Regions from separate parts of the Homo sapiens genome. Here region 2 is linked to region 1. A link means that fine-mapping ties the variant in region 1 to the expression of a gene that starts in the linked region. Tissue or cell type: esophagus mucosa. Region 1 holds a variant in brackets; the other region holds the start of a gene. All regions are shown on one strand. Distances are between the middles of the regions.

Region 1 (8,106 bases):
GAAGTTTTTCCTACCAAATACATAAAGTTTCAGAGCGTGCACTGACACTTTGCATAATGGGGTACCTCATACATTTGGAAGCAGCCAACCCTGCTGCTGCACCTTTTTATTCTTTCAGGCTCTTTCTTAGGTTGGGCCAGCATGTTCTTGCTGATGAATGGCTTTTGAGGACACCTGCTCCTTCTTCTCTAGTAAAGCACTTCAGATATAGAGAGACAGTTGCCGTAGCCCCGTCTCCTCTTTTCCAAACCAGGATCTTGCTCTTGACTCATGATGTGTTGCAGCCCTTCATTTCCTGGCGGATGATATCCCTATCCATATATGGTCCTCAGAGGCAAACACAACTCCAGTGAGTTCTGCCCAGCACAAAGCCCATGGTGTCATTCGTGATCTTAAGTAGCTACCATGTTCATGGACAGGCAGCCTATGATTCTGATAGTTTTTTTAGTAACCAACATTATACAGTTGGCACACAAAAGTAATCAGTCAACTCCAACATCTTTTTAAAAAATCAACTTTTCTCCCTTGATTAAAAAGCAATACATTGTGACTATTGAAGGCTTCGTGGAAAATACAGTGAAAGTAAGGTCACTTATTATCAATCTGTTTGCTAATCCTGAGTTAATCACAGTTAACAGTTTCTTATATTTTCCTACCATCTTTTTCTGCGTATGTATTTTCATATACTTAGTATCCTAAAGTGTATGCCACTTCGCATCTTGGTTTTGTTTTGCCTTTACTACCTTCTAAAATGATTTTCACATAGATTGGCCCCACACTCAGTCAGAATCTCTGGGAAAGGATCCTAGTCATGTGATTTTTCTTTTTTCTTTAATTTTTTTTTAAATTCCCGGGGAAATTAAACTAAATTAGAAGGCATGAATATTTTTAAAATATGTTTCCCTGTTGATTCTAGTGCACATCCAGGGGCGAAAATCATTAACAGAATCTTACGGGCATTTATTTGGTTTTGTTTATCATCTATTTAGTTAGCATTTGCTATTTGGTTGTAAGTATTTTTCCCGCATTTGCAGATCTGATCAGCATGCTTTCTGTGCATTACTCATTAAGTTGTCAGTTTGACCATGGCCAAAAACAGAGACCTAATGATCTCGCTCTGGCTAGCACACTGATATTAATCAACTCTGAGGAAATACTCATTCAGCAAGCTATGTTCTTAATTAGTTTTTCACCTCCCTCCTACAACAAGATCATGTGCAACTCTATAATATAGTATTTTCTACAGAAAAAAAGGAGTTAGTTGAATATGACTTGACCATGATCATTTCAGTGCCTGGACAGTCAGCAGAATGCTAGCCTCTCTCTCTTGCTCTAAGAGAGTAAATGTGGGATTAGACACAGGTGAGCTATTGCTAGAAGAACCAGCCACCAAGCTCCTGAGGGACAGTGGGGTTGGTCACCAGCCTCAGTCCACACCTGCCTAATCAAGCTGGGTATTCATTCCTCGACTCAGCCAAGAATATCTGAATAGCCAAGAAAGAGGAAAGGGGTGGTGGATGTAAATTATAGGAGAATAATTCTCTGCAATTCTTTCAATGCACTTGCAAAGATACAATTTCATTTACTTCTTATTCCTCTCTGGGATGTGTATTCCCCATGTTATAGATGAGGACATTGCCCAGAGCAGTGGGATAGCAGAGTCAACCAGGTTTTCTGACTGCAAGACTAGTATTCCTCCCCTCTCTATCTTGCCTCCCATACAAGTCTCAATCTCCCTCTTCCCTCCACGAGTCTAGTGGCAACTGCCTTACTGACTGAATTGCACATTGTACTCCCTACCTGACTTTTCAATAGGATGACTTATGTAACACCTTTTAAAAGCCCATTTTTTCCTGGTATTTATGAAGAACTGGGAGCTTGGCCATGGGCTAAGACTTTCCTCTGCTTGAGTTATCCAATATGGGATTGCCAAATCTGGGTAAATACGACTGCTTTCCCCAAACTGGCAGGAGCGAGTCAGAACCTCACATCTCTACCCTTCCTTTTTTATAGGGTACAAGGGTGAAAAGTCTTAGCCTTGCAGAACTTCTAATAGATAAATATTTAATAGAAAAGAGCACTGGGCTAAAAGTCAGTGCAAAGTTCTGCCTGGTCAGCAGCCTTCATCTTTGTCCCTGCACCAATCCCCTTAACTATCCCAAATCTGCAGGCTCAACCCCCTTCTCACCTCTGGGACCACCCCTATCTATGGGCCTAGCGGGGTTGGCCCAACACTCAGACACCTTTTTCTGGACGCTGTGGTGTTTCTTTGCCCCCTCTCCCTTCATAAGCCCCATCTTTGATGTAATCATGAGGTTCCAGCCCTATTTCTTAAACCTGAATATCCATTTATGCCTCTTGCCAACAACTTCAGTCCCCATGGGACTGAGCTTCTGACTTTTTTAGTGCTGGATACCCTCCCAGGGGTAAGAGGCCTGTTCCCAAAAATGGGGCCCAGTGCCTGCGGCCTGGATACTAAACACCTCAATCTCCGACGTCGCCTGCTCCCAGCTTCCTTTCCTGGGTTTCACCAGCAGTCGATTACATTGCCTCCTTCTGCAGCCACAACATTCAAAGATTTCATTCTGTTTCTCAGGCTGCACTGCTCTTGGCAAAGGCCTCTCCATGTGTTCCCCAGGTGCCTTATCTGAGTTCTGACCTACATAGTCTGACCCTCCCGAGGGATAACCAGGGAACCAGGGCATGCTAGCCATGTCCCAAGATGGGAGGGTACAGAGAACTGGTTCTAGGCCTGGCTCTTCTACCAATTGTCTGAGTGGCCTAGGACAAGTCACAGGGCCTCCTGAAGCCTCCTTACCCAACCTCAGAACAGGTCTCTATACCAAAGGGGGTAAGTGGGGGTGGTGGATGGACCTAGAAACATACTAGAACATCTGCAGTTTGAAGATTCTTTTAAAGTCATTTATGCAACGGGTAAGAGGGAAAGCCCTCTTTCTCTAAACATACACTTGCACACTCTTGACTTGTGTCAAATTCTGGTGTGTCTAACAGTGAACAAAGAAGCTTGGTTGCCACAGGCTGTCAGCCAAGACCCTCCCAGGGGAACTTCAGGCCCAGGAGAAGGGAAAGCAGCTCTGTGGAATGGGTGCTCACTACTCTCCCTGAGCCATGGCTCGCCTGAGACTCACCTTCAACATGGCACTCCCAGCAACCAGAATCAAAAGACCACAACACAAAACTTATTGCTGTCTTTCCCCAGAGCAAAGCCCACTGCGTAGAACCATTGACAGAGATATTAACTCAGGCAAAATTAGATGCACCCCAGAGGCAGCCAGGAAGGGGCAGGGCTGGTACCAAAGGACAAGGGGTACTGGTGGAGGCTTGAGAAGAGGAGAAGGGGGTGTTCCTGCTTCCCACCTGCCCCCTTCCTGGGGTTGTACATGTGTGTGTAGGAGTGAGCCTCCTTCTCCCCTGTGTTGCTTTCAGAGCCACTCCTTGTTTTCTGGAGGACAAGGACACATTCCCTGCCAAATCTCCTTCGTTTGGTAAAGCTATACCCTAGGTACCTTTGGGTCAAGGAAAAGAGATTCCTCATAAATTCATCTAAATTGCCTGTTCTGGGCATTTCCAAAGTAAATTTCTTTCTTCCTTTTTTTTTTTTTTTTTTTTTTTGAGACAGAGTCTCACTCTGTCGCCCAGGCTGGAGTGCAGTGGCATGATCTTGACTCACCACAAACTCCACCTCCCAGGCTCAATTGATTCTCCCCACTCAGCCTCCCAAGTGGCTGGGATTACAGGTGGGCGCCACCACACCCAGCTAATTTTTGTATTTTTAGTAGAGACGGGGTTTCGCCATGTTGGCCAGGCTGGTCTCGAACTCCTGACCTCGAATGATCCACCTGCCTCAGCCTCCCAAAGTGCTGGGATTACAAGAGTAAGCCACTGTGCCTGGCCTCCAAAGTAAATTTCTTAAAACTGATTCCACTCCTCACACTCAGATAATTGTATAGATTTTAGTTTATAGACCAAAAGGGGGCATAATTTTATATTTGTAAAAACTAACAAAATAGGTTGGCTTATAAATATGTATTTCAGTTTATTTGACTAGCTAGAATATTTGTTATTTATTCTTCAAATGCAAAATGCCAAATTCATTTTTTAAAACAACAATAATAATGAAGTCCCGTGTGTGCCAGCCAGGGAGTGTGGGGGCTGGGTGGGGAGGGTGTGTTCACATGGTGGGGGGAGGCTTCTCTCCTGCAGCAGGCTCACCGGAGGTCCCAGGGCAGCCCTGCCCAAGCGTGACATACGTTAGAAAGAAACCATTCCCATCATTCACAACTGTCTTGTGAGGTGGCTTAGACAAGTGTTGTTCTTATTTTACAAATGAGGAAATTAAGGCTGGAGAGGTTAAAGGGCCTTTCCACGATCTCATGACTCATTATGGCTGGAAATAGAACGTGGCCGGTCCCCTGGCTTTTTCTGCTGCTTTCTCCGGGACTGGCAGCTATGACAGTTCTGCTTTGATATGGAGTGTGCCCCTCCACTTTTCTCCATCCCAAGGGACACATTTCCA[C/T]GCAGTGAACATCAGTGCACACCAGGGACCCTTCTTCCTCACCAGCCAGCCCCAGATGAGTCCCCCTGATGAACTGATGCTCTGAGGAACGAGTGAGGGACCACAGTCAAAGATCATGCAGCAGGGAGGCAGGGTGAGAGGTGTTCATCCTCCGTGTTGCCAGACATGCCTGTACCCGGAAGACGGAATCAGATGCAGGGTTTCAAAGGGAGACAGATGCAAGAAGTCCATTCAGATGCCTGTAGCTTCCATTCCATGCCTGCAGCTTCCCATTCGGATGCCTGCAGCTTCCCATCCCATGCCTGCAGCTTCCCATTCGGATGCCTGTAGCTTCCCATCCCATTCCTGCAGCTTCCCATCTCATGCCTGCAGCTTCCCATCCCATGCCTGTAGCTTCCCATCCCATGCCTGCAGCTTCCCATTCTCCAGTTTCTTACCCACCACTTGTTGCCGAGTGACCCAGACAAATCAATGACTCTCTCTACACTTCTGGGTCCTGGCCTGTCAAACTTAGAAACCAAGAAAACTCACCTTGCAGTGTCATCACAAGGGTGAACTGAGACAGAAGCACTTTGTAAACAGTAAACTGCTGTCACAATGTCACCATTATTGTCGTTAGCTAGCTGGAGTGTGGGATATAAAAACAACAGATGGTTTCTGCTTCCTTCCGAGGAGATTACAATCTAGGAAGCACGTGCACTATATTCACATGAAAATATTTAAAGGTAGCCACGTTCCGGAAGAAAGGCATCATCCAAGATGTGCCTAATCTAAGTCTAATTTTCCTATAGATAATCATAAGACAGGAAGGGAGTATGTTCTCAGAGTGCCTACATCTAGATTCATGGTATCCTTGCTTTAAAGATGCTTCAAAACACTTCCTAGCAGAATCTCTTTTATGTTGCAGAGTCTTTCTCCCAAATTAATGGCCCAATGGATCACGGCCAGTGACAGGCCTTCTTCGTCTATCACATCTAATGTCACTTCATACCACAGTTGGCCCTCGGAATCCAGGGGTTCAACATTCTCAGATTCAACTAACCATGGATGGAAAGTATTCAGGAAGCAAACAAAAAAAGATGGTTGTGTCTGTACTGAACATGTACAGGCTTTTTCTTGCCATTATTCCCTACGCCAAACAGTATAACAACTATATACATAGGATTTATATTGCATTAGATATTATAAGTAATTTAGAGTTGATTTAAAGTATATGGGAAGGGGCTGGGCATGGTAGCTCATGCCTGTAACTCCAGCACTTTGGGAGGCCGAGATGGGTGGGTCACTTGAGGTCAGGAGTTCGAGATAAGTCTGGCCAACATGGTGAAACCAGTCTCTACTAAAAATAGAAAAAAAATAGCTGGGTGTGGTGGCATGTGCCTGTAATCCCAGCTACTTGGGAGGCTGAGACAGGAGAATTGCTTGAACCTGGAAGGTGGAGGCTGCAGTGAACTGAGATCGTGCCATTGCACTCCAGCCTGGGAGACAGAGCTAGACTCCGTCTCAAAAAAAAAAAAATGTATACAGGAAGACGTAAGTAGGTTCTATGCAAATCCTAGGCCATTTTCTATCAGTTAGTTGAGCATCACAGATGTTGGTATCCTGGGGTGGAAGGTGCCGGGGGTCCTGGAACCATTCCCCTGTCATACTGAATGGATCATAATTTACAGCACGTTTTCAGTGCCACTATATTATAAAAGCTTACATGATACTTTCATAGGATAGAAAAGATATTAAATTATTAACACAATGAAAAAAAAAAAAAAACAAAAAAACCCCAGCACTATAGCCACAAAAATCACTCAGGAAAACATCTGCTTTGATTCATTGTACTACTCCCCATCACACTGACCAAGGCCTGTGGAGGTTTCCCTGTGGAGGTTTCTGTTTACCGCAACTGTGGCACAGCCACCAGACCAGGGTCCAAACACAGCGTAAGTTTCACTGGCTGTGCTCTGGATTTGTTATGCCATTCTGGATAAATCATGCAAATTTGGAGGAATTTGGACTATTTCAAATGTTGCCCATTCTGAAATTGAGCAATCTCCAGTAGTATTTTATTGCTATTTTACATAGCATTATTTAAAATTTGCATGATTCAAATTTGCCTGAAATGTGAGTGTATTGTTCAAATGACAGCATCTTAACAGAGCAAACAGCATTCAAATGACCTCCATATCAGTGGAATAAAGGTGGGAACAACTGACTTGCAGGGGGCTGGCTAATGGGGGAAGCACTTTTTGAAGGATGAACATTTTGAATATGTTGAATAAAAATACATTTTGAGTATGTTTGAATAGAGAGTGATTTGGAATGTGCTGAATAGAAGACATATTCTAATTCTATAATATACCACTTCTTTGGTACCACTGGAAATGGCTCAATTTCAGAATCAATAGTTCTGACTTCTGCACTTTAGAAAGGACTTTGGATGATTTCTTTTTTGAAAAGCTATGCCATTGTCATCCTATGGGTTTCACTCAGAGGCATGATAAACACCCAGGGTGGGGAATGAAGACACCCTCAAAGAGTAGGGAATTCTGCCTCAAATTCCTGAGGGCCCCAGAGTGGGATCTGCTTCGTCAAGCACAGCGCATGAATTATGCAATATTTTTCAATAACTAAAAGTAACCATTAATATCTGCCTGAAAGAAGCTTGACCTGGGAGTATTATCTTTGGTTGCCAGAGGATACATTCAATCCTTTTTGGTGTTTGTTTGAATAATGGAATAGACAGTTTAGGTTGCTTAGCTGAACACAGAGCACATTTTTATCCTGAAAGGGAAATTAGAAATCCTGACTTTAAAACAAAGACAGGATTCCTTCTCTGCTTGGATCAGCACATTAATCAGCTAATAAACAAATATTTATTAAGTTCCTGCAATGAAACCTTTGACTTTCCTGTGTAATAACTTTTGACAAATTCTCTAATATCCTGGCAAAGAAAATATTTTCTCTACCAAGTCATCTTAAAACATGTTTATTTTTCCATTTCATCTTTGAACAAACTAAAGGTGTTTCATTTTTTTGCCCCATAGAGATGGGTTATTCAATTACATGTCTCTTTCCAGTTCTAAGTTACACAGCCTTCGGTCAGCAAAACAAATTTATTTTTCCATGTTGAAAAAGATAAACTCATAAGATAAGATCACCTACCTAATGGTTCCAAAATCTGATTTGTGCGTTAAAATCACATGGGGAAACTATCGATGTATAATCAAATGCTAGCTAATTTGCCATTAGTCCAATTTCATTTTAGGGACCACTGACTTCATTTTACAGGCAGGGAAGTTGAAGGTAACACAATTTGTGGCAGAGTTGGCCAAGAGACCCCAAATCTCCTCCCAGCTTACAGTCCTGTTTTCATTCTACTGAACCTTCCCTTACATGAAACAACTTCCAGGATTAAAGAGATAAATATCTGTCAATGAAATTTTAAATGGATTTTTGGACATATCTCTTCTATTTGTTTCCCCTGAATTTCTACTTTCTATGAGTACATTGGATGTCAAGTTCCTTAATAGCAAGAACCTTTATGAAAAGTGACCAACAGCACAAAATCCTATACT
Region 2 (8,106 bases), 670 kb before region 1:
ACATGTATACATATGTAACTAACCTGCACAATGTGCACATGTACCCTAAAACTTAAAGTATAATAATAAAAAAAAAAAGAAAAAAGATTCAATGTTCCTGGCATTCAATTGTTTGATTCATCTTCATGATCATGATTGGCATTTTGGTTGCTTTTGTCCTGATATAAACATGTTTTGAGGCAAATAAATAATCAGCCATGGTGGCTTCATGGCAGCAACTGGGCTAGATGGTTTCAAGGTTGCTCACAAATAGGCCTGTTGATTCCCCATCCCCATCCACTGTGAAATTCTCTGTCTCAAGGGAGTTTCCGCTATTTGCATACTTTCTACACGAAGGCCTCCTAGGAGGGTCCAGCCCTAACTTTAAAATTACCTGTGCAAATAGCAAAGACTTTGAACCAACCCAAATGCCCATCAATGATAGACTGGATAAAGAAAATGTGGCACATATACACCATGGAATACTATGCAGCCATAAAAAAGAATGTGTTCATGTCCTTTGCAGAGACATGGATGAAGCTAGAAGCCATCATTTTCAGCAAACTAACACAGGGACAGAAAATCAAACACCACATGTTCTCACTCATAAGTGGGAGTTGAACAATGAGAACACATGGACACAGGGAGGGGGACATCACACACTGGGCCCTGTTGGAGGATCGGGGGCACAGGGAGGGAGAGCATTAGGACAAATACCTAACGCATGCAGGGCTTAAAATCTAGATGACGAGTTGACAGGTGCAGCAAACCACCATGGCACATGTATGCCTCTGTAACAAAACTGCACGTTCTGCACATGTGTCCCAGAATTTAAAGTGAAATAAAATAAAATAAAATTCCCCATGCATTGCCTAGTTCTATGTCTGCATCCAGCAGCACCTGAAATCCCGGCCTGATGCAGCCCCGGCAGTTCATCTCATTTTATTTTGCCTGAAGTCTCCAAGCAAGTTCTCCCAGCTCAAGGGCCAGCATTCTTTCCAACAACTCATCACTCCTCGTTATGCAAAGGGAAGAACACCAAGGGCTTTCTGTATTCTGAGCAATAATTCGGGTAATGAAGTGAGAGCTTAGCCTCTCTTGTGAATGCTGAGGAACCCTAAAACAGCATATCTTTTGCTTCCAAAAAGATCTAGCATAGCAATTTTGTTGGTTCATAAAATGCTCAAATGCTCAAACCATATGTTTAGCTACAATTCCCAATGGCTATATCCTTCTTTATATGAGTAAAAGAGGAGGTTTTCAGCATCAGGTGGAAAAATAAGTATGGGTATTGGGGAAAATAGTCTAAATTTAACTCTGAGTCAGTTCCAAGACAGTGGAGGTGATACCAGGTTCATGGCCTGGCATTTCCCAGCCTGCGAATTCTGCTTCAAGTCTGCAAGTCTGCCCAGTAGGTACAAGACAAATCATACCCAAGGACATTTGTACAGAAACATGAGCCTTGCTAGATCCCTCCCTTGTGCAGGGTAGCTTCTATGAAACATATAGACCAAGCAGACTTCCACATCAGTGAATACATTTGGCCATCTGAAAATACAGAGACTTAACACATATGGAGACCTGTGGCTTCCTCGGGCCAGCCTCAGTTTGAAAGCAAGGGTGAGATCTTTGTCAGACACTCACGGGACCTGTGCTGCCCATAAAGGAAGGGGCCCTTCTCTCAGGACAGCACAAGGGAAAACACCCACAGCCGGAAAAGAAGGTGTGTCTCAGCATGACGGAGGCTGTGTGCAAATTATTCCTTGTGCCAATATCAGGAGTGTGGATCTGACAAACAAAAGGCCATGTCATTGGCTTAGTGTCTCTGTGGAGTCTGTAATGGTCCTTTTACTTACTTGAGTCCTTTCTAAGATGGATTTTGTTCATTTTCCACTAAGATTGCAGAAGCTGCACGTGGCGTGGCAGTTTATGAATTGGGTCCCCTGGCAAGGCTCTGAAAGACAGCTGGAGTGGGGGTGGGCTGTGTGTGTGAAGCCGCTGCACAGAGCTGGAGTCGGCTGTCCACACAATCACGTCTATGTGAGAGCCGGCAGCCTGCAAACTGCTTCCCTGCAAGGGGAGACACATGCCAGGGGAGGGCCAGAGAATTTTGTTAATTCTGTTTATCTTAGAGACTGTTTTTTTGTCTGCTGGGGGAAATAAAAAACAAATACATAACTTCCTTGCTTGTGTGCAGTCTGATTTTTTTCTCTCTCTCATGCCCTCATTTTTATTTCTCCGAAGTATCTCTCCCCTTCAGTTTGGGGCATCAGTTTATGGCATTTTTCCGTACATGTGTATATAGTATCTATGCACAAAGTCAGAGATATAAATGTCTGTTTTAGACTCTTTTGGCTTTAGTGTTCTGTGGAGGTCCATGAGATATCAGAGATCTCATTTTCTTTCTGTTAACATAATTAGCAGAGCTCTCTCTGTGCTCAGAGTGCATAGCTGAGTCCCGCATAACCAGCAATAACAGTGCATTCTTAGCAGCCTCCCTGGATAGTTTGCTAAATTCTTTCTGAGAGCCTCTCGCTGCCTTTACAAAGGTTATAGCTGAAAAACAAACCAGAAACTGGGAATCCAACTCTGTGAGCAGAGAGAGGGCTGCACATTCTATTATCGCACGGATAGAGGCTCAGGTTCATGCAGTCGCGTTTGGAGTCCTGGCAATTTCAGATGAAGGCCGTCCTTAGGAAAATCAGCTATCCCAAGCCCAGGCAGTCTGGGTTAGCCGAGGTTTTTGTTTGTTTTGTGGAGTTTTTGCTGGTTGGTCTTTTGTAGATGCTGCAAATCACAAATGGGGAACCTGAACGACACAAGCTTTTTCTTCTCCGTATCATTTTACCTGGCCAAAAAGGCAAAAGAAGGGGAAGGTGGCATTGCTAAGTCACAGGGAAGGATATGACCTAAACATCCCCCCTTCCCCAAGTAATCCGGGAGCACCACTCCCCTCTGAGGACCCCACAGGTACTTTCACAGTCCAACACACTGAGAAACAAGCCCACAGGGTGCCAGGATGACATGACCACAGAGAAAAGGGACAGAAGGAGTTTGGGACACATGCACGGACACCTGTTGCTTTTGCAGACTTGAACTTAGAAAATATGAGCCTCATTAGAATTTCTCTTTCTAAAATAAACGACCACTTTTAATATCGTCAAATATCATGTACTGCTATAGTTCTCTGTCCTCCGCACTGAGAATCCAAAACAGGTCCTTGGGATAACTTTTGGGAAACAATACCGCCACGAAAACAAAAGTCTTCTCAGCCAAGAACACAGATTTTTTTTATCTACCTTTGATGTCCCAAAGGACTAGAGAATCCAGAGCATTTAAATAAGACTCCAATGCCAGGAGCTCACTGTTCCCTGCTGGATGCCAGCCCTCCCCTCCCTGCCCAGAAGAGGACATGGTACTCACCAGTCATTAGGGTATAATAATTGGGATACGAGAGACTAGGGAAGTCTGGAGTCAAGTAATCCACTTTTACTCCCCTGCTCACAATCTCTTTGAAACCAGGCAATGACTCCAGCGCCTCATCACTGATGTAGTCTGAGCGAAAACCATCCAGCAGAAACACCAGCAGCTTCCGGCGGGCAGAGGCTGGCTGGGCCAGGCCCAGGGCAAGGGCCAGCAGGAGGGTCCCAAGCTTCACTGCCATGCTGCCAGGAGCCTGCCAGAGCCCGGCTGGCACAGCTGTCGCCTTGCAAAGACTGAGGATGGAGAATCTGTAGCTATTCTCTCTTCCAGGGGCTGGACCTTGAGCCGCTGGCCTTCCTGAGTCAAGTTCACTTGCAGAATTTAAAGGAACAGCACCCCCTTTTCCACACATCTATGCTCACCCTTTACTAGAAAGTCCAGAGACCGACTCCTTCAGATAAACTGGGTTCCAAACAACCCAGAATTAACACCAGGGGAGAGAGTTCAAACTTATTATTTTTGGTGAACGTTCCAGAAATACAAGCACCCACAGAGGTGGAATTTTAGAAGATGACAAAGTCAACACTAACTTTGCAGTTGAGCTAACCAAAGGGAGGAACCAAGGAAAAGGGCAAGATTTTAATTTGCTGTTATCCCACATCATGGCCTCATTTAAACTCTTTTTCACTTAGAATTTAGTAACGCAAACCTCTGGACTCAGTGCATAAACAGGAAACAATACGTTTCGGTGGGCCCATTTGTAAACTTCCCAGCTGTGTCTCTGTAGACACAGCACTTAAAAAAGTTATTTGTCTATGTCTTGGCCACTTATGTTTTTATATGCAGTGTTATTATTTGTTATTATTTTATTTTTCAAATGTGATTTAGCTGCTGGTGCCCATAGGAGGAGGTGGTTCGTAGAAGAGCCCTAGAGCCAATGAGAAGCTTCCAGAGTTGGACAATGGGAAATCATTACTGGCAGAATGGTCTGAAGCAGCATTGCCCCAGGAGGATGGAAATGAAATAGAGAGCTGGAGATTGAGAGCTTGAGATGGAAAAGCAGAGCTAGAAATTACCATGCAGGCTTTGGGACCGAGAAGACTAGGCGGAGTGGAAAATAGGAGGAGGTTAGTGACAGGGAGGCAGATGTGAGCTGGGGAGCAGACAGAGTTAGCACAAAGTACCCAGAGTCCAGGGGTTCCCTAGAGTGGCTCCGTCATGCTACATAAAATTAAACAACACAATTCATGTGAAGGCTTATAAAACATGGCTGAGTGCAGTGGCCCACTTTGGGAGGCCAAGGTGGAAGGATTGCTTGAGGCCAGGAGCTTGAGACCAGCCTGGGCAACACAGCAAGACCCCATCTCTATAAAAAATTAAAAAATTAGCTGGGCCTGGCGGCACGTGCCTGGTCCCAGCTACACAGGAGGCTGAGGTGGGAGGATTGTGTGAGCACAGGTGGTCATATCTGCAGTAAGCTGTGATTGTATCACTGCACTCCAGGCTGGGCAACAGAGTGAGGCCCTGCCTCAAAAAAAAAAAGACATAAAACATGCATGGTCCATAGCAAGTGTTGAACAAATGTTAGATGTTATTCGCATTATAACATTGCTTGTCTCCTGAGGAAACTTGCAGGCTCTGGGCAAACTTTCCAGGGAAGGAAGATAGACACCAGCCACACCAGCCACTCTCAGTCAACCCCAAAATCCCTCTTCCACCTCTGCCCTCTGCTTGTGTCTTTTCTCCTTCTCTTTTTCTGTTGTATTTGAGTCAAGCCCAAACACAGGATCACCATGTCACTTTTTAAATTATGCTGCAAAAGAGAAACACATTGGCCAAATTACCACTCCCCTCTCAGGGGACTTGGCCAAGGATCAGAATTCTTTTTTCCAATAAGAGGTAATGCTTTTTATAATTAAATTTAAATTTTTTTCTTATTAAAAAATAAGGAAAAGGGGAGTTTATCCTAAAAGGTTGTTACTTTGAAAACAATGTTATTCTTTTTTCTTTGAGCTGTGTGGTATTGTTGCTATAAACAGAGAAAAAGAAAAGAGAGAAGAAAGAGGAAAGGAAGGAAGAAAGAAAGAAAAAGGAAAGAAAGAAAAGTAAACGAAGGAAGGGAGAAAGAGAAAGAAAGGGAAGGGAAGAAAAGGGAAGAAGGAAAGAGAACAGAAGGGAAGAGAAGAAAGGAAGAAAAGGGAGGAAGGGAAGGAAAGGGGAGGGGAAGGAAGGGGAGGAAAGGGAAGGGAGGGAAAGGAAGGGAAGGGAAAGGGAAAGGGGAAGGGAAGGAGGAAAAAAAGAATAGAAGGGAAGAAGGGAAAGGAAGAGAAAAAGGGAAGAAAAGCGAAGAAGGGAAGGGAAGGGAAGGGGAGGGGAAGGGAAGGGAGGGAAAGGAAGGGAAGGGAAAGGGTAAGGGGAAGGGGAAGGGAAGGAGGAAAAAAGAATAGAAGGGAAGAAGGGAAAGGAAGAGAAGAAGGGAAGAAAAGCGAAGAAGGGAAGGGAAGGGAAGGGAAGGGGAGGGGAAGGGAAGGGAGGGAAAGAAGGGAAAGGAAAGGGAAAGGGGAAGGGGAAGGGAAGGAAAAAAAAGAATAGAAGGGAAGAAGGGAAGGGAAGAGAAGAAGGGAAGAAAAGCGAAGAAGAGAAGGGAAGGAAAGGGGCGGGGAAGGGAGGGGAGGGGAGGGAAGGGAAGGGAAGGGAAAGGAAGGGAAGAAGGGAAGAAGAGAAGGAAAGGGAAGGTGAGGGGAATGGAAGGGAGGGGAGGGAAGGGAAGGGAAAGGAAAAAGGGAAGAAGGGAAGAAAAGGGAAGAAGGGAAGAGAAGAGATGGGAAGAAGGGAAAGGGAGGGATGGGAAGAAGGGAAAGGGAGGGATGGGAAGAAGGGAAAGGGAGGGAAGGGAAGAAGAGAAGAGAAGGGAAGGGAAAGGGAGGAGAGGGAAGGGAAGGGAAGGAGAAGGGAGGGGAGGGGAGGGGAAAAGGCAGATGCAGCCTGATGGGTTGATGGGCCTCCTAGACACTGAACATCACATGTGCTAGAAGGAGAACTTCTTCCCCTGGTGAGGGCCCATGGAGGTAGGAGGCCCAGATAGCTGTGCTCTGTGAGTTCCTGAGAGGCTCAGGGATTGTCTGGACTGCGAAGCTGGAGTCACAGTGCAAGTCCAAGTGATTTACTTTGGGATGGCCTCTGAGCTCACTTTGGGATGGCTTCTGAGCTCACTTTGGGAGAGGTTAAGCACTCCAAATGTTAAAGATGAATATAAGAGGGACTTCCACTTTTCTCCACTACTAACAAGGGTACACTCAAAATATGGCTCCCTGAGTGCCTCATTGAGCTGTTGTGGGTGTCAACTCAGAAGTAACTTGCTTCAGATTAGCGTGTTCACAGGTCCCCAGAGGCTCCCAAGGCTCCACAAAGATTGTTGTGATGTATCTGGGGTGGGGTCATCATTGTTTTATGATAATGTTTATGATCATATTGTGTTATGACCATGTTTAGACAATGTCTCTAAAGCTTTGGATCAATAAATGATTGCCAATATGAATCTCTAATATACATACCAATATATGAAGAAAGAGACGTATTGGATGGAATTCAAGCCAAGGTAATCCTAGGGTTGCTCAAAGCCAGTCTCCAGGTCTTGAACCGTCTAACCTAGAAAAGATTGGAAATGAAAGCTAAAAAGCAATAGTTAAAAGCCATATGTCATACAGGTGGTTAACATTAAGTGCCCAAAGTCTTGTGATCCAAAACCTATGTGTCTATGATCTGGATGTCTTCACTTGGGAGTGGTTATCAGTACCTAATGCTTATAAGTGCTTATTGCAACTTGTTTTCAAGGGTTGGCAATACTGTAAAGTCATTGTCCACAGGGGTTTCACTTAGATAATGCAAAATATGAAAAATTTACTCCAGAAGTTGAAAGAACCTTTGTCCTAAAGCTGCTGCAAGTCTCTCTAGGGACATGCATGAGCTCTCAGGAAATGTGCTGTCCAGATTAGTCAGCACCCTGGTGCCTCCCCTTTATGGAGAGACAGGTGAGATGGAAGGGAAAGAGTCTCAGAAAAACAAAACAAAACAAAACAAAATAAACAAACAAAAAACACAAAAAAAACGTGATTCCAGAGTCAAGATCCTGGTATGATGCAATTGTGTGATTCTGAAGAAATTGCCTTTCTGGGCTTCAGTTTTCACCTCTGAAAAGTGACAAAGCTCTAGCTTCTACTTTCTAGCTGTAGAATCAATGCAATTTGAGAGTGAGGTCCCAAGTCAGCCCATGTCGGCCAACATCCACCCTTGTTGGTCCTATTAATTAATTCATCCCAGCTTTTGCAGCCCTGCTGGCCTTTTGTTGGTCCATGTCAACCCTCCTTGTATCTGGAAAAATATTATTTAAAATTTAAGACGACATAAGGACATTTTTAGATAAACAAAAGATGAGAGAATTAGTTACCAACAGGCTTGTACCACAAAAAAATACTAAAGAATGTCCTTTGAGAGGAAATAACACAAGATGAAAATTAATATACACAGGAAGGGAAAAAAATTCATAAATGATCAATATGTGAGTACATATAAAAGACTATGTTTTTCTTTCATAAATGTCCTTAAAAATAACTGCTTAAAGTAAAAAGAATAACACTATGCTGCGAGTGATGACTTACGAAGAATTAAAGGATATAAAGACAACAGCCTAAATGAAAGGGGTAG

What was found. PIP is the estimated chance that this variant, and not a neighbour inherited with it, causes the effect.
Region 2: it holds the start of ENPP6, and the variant in region 1 is fine-mapped to the expression of ENPP6 in esophagus mucosa (GTEx, PIP above 0.99).

What each region holds. Positions count from the first base shown.
Region 1 is chr4:184,885,498-184,893,603 of GRCh38, forward strand. LINC01093 (long intergenic non-protein coding RNA 1093) reads right to left here. Exons shown (of 2, transcript NR_039977.1): 2 at 7,503-8,106. Among named protein-coding and RNA genes, the nearest start is that of LINC01093, 9.9 kb to the right of the region's middle. RefSeq lists an enhancer at 8,093-8,106. The variant C/T (reference allele first, on the strand shown) is at 4,538.
Region 2 is chr4:184,214,177-184,222,282 of GRCh38, forward strand. ENPP6 (ectonucleotide pyrophosphatase/phosphodiesterase 6) reads right to left here and starts at 3,697. Exons shown (of 8, transcript NM_153343.4): 1 at 3,403-3,697. The coding sequence starts at 3,643.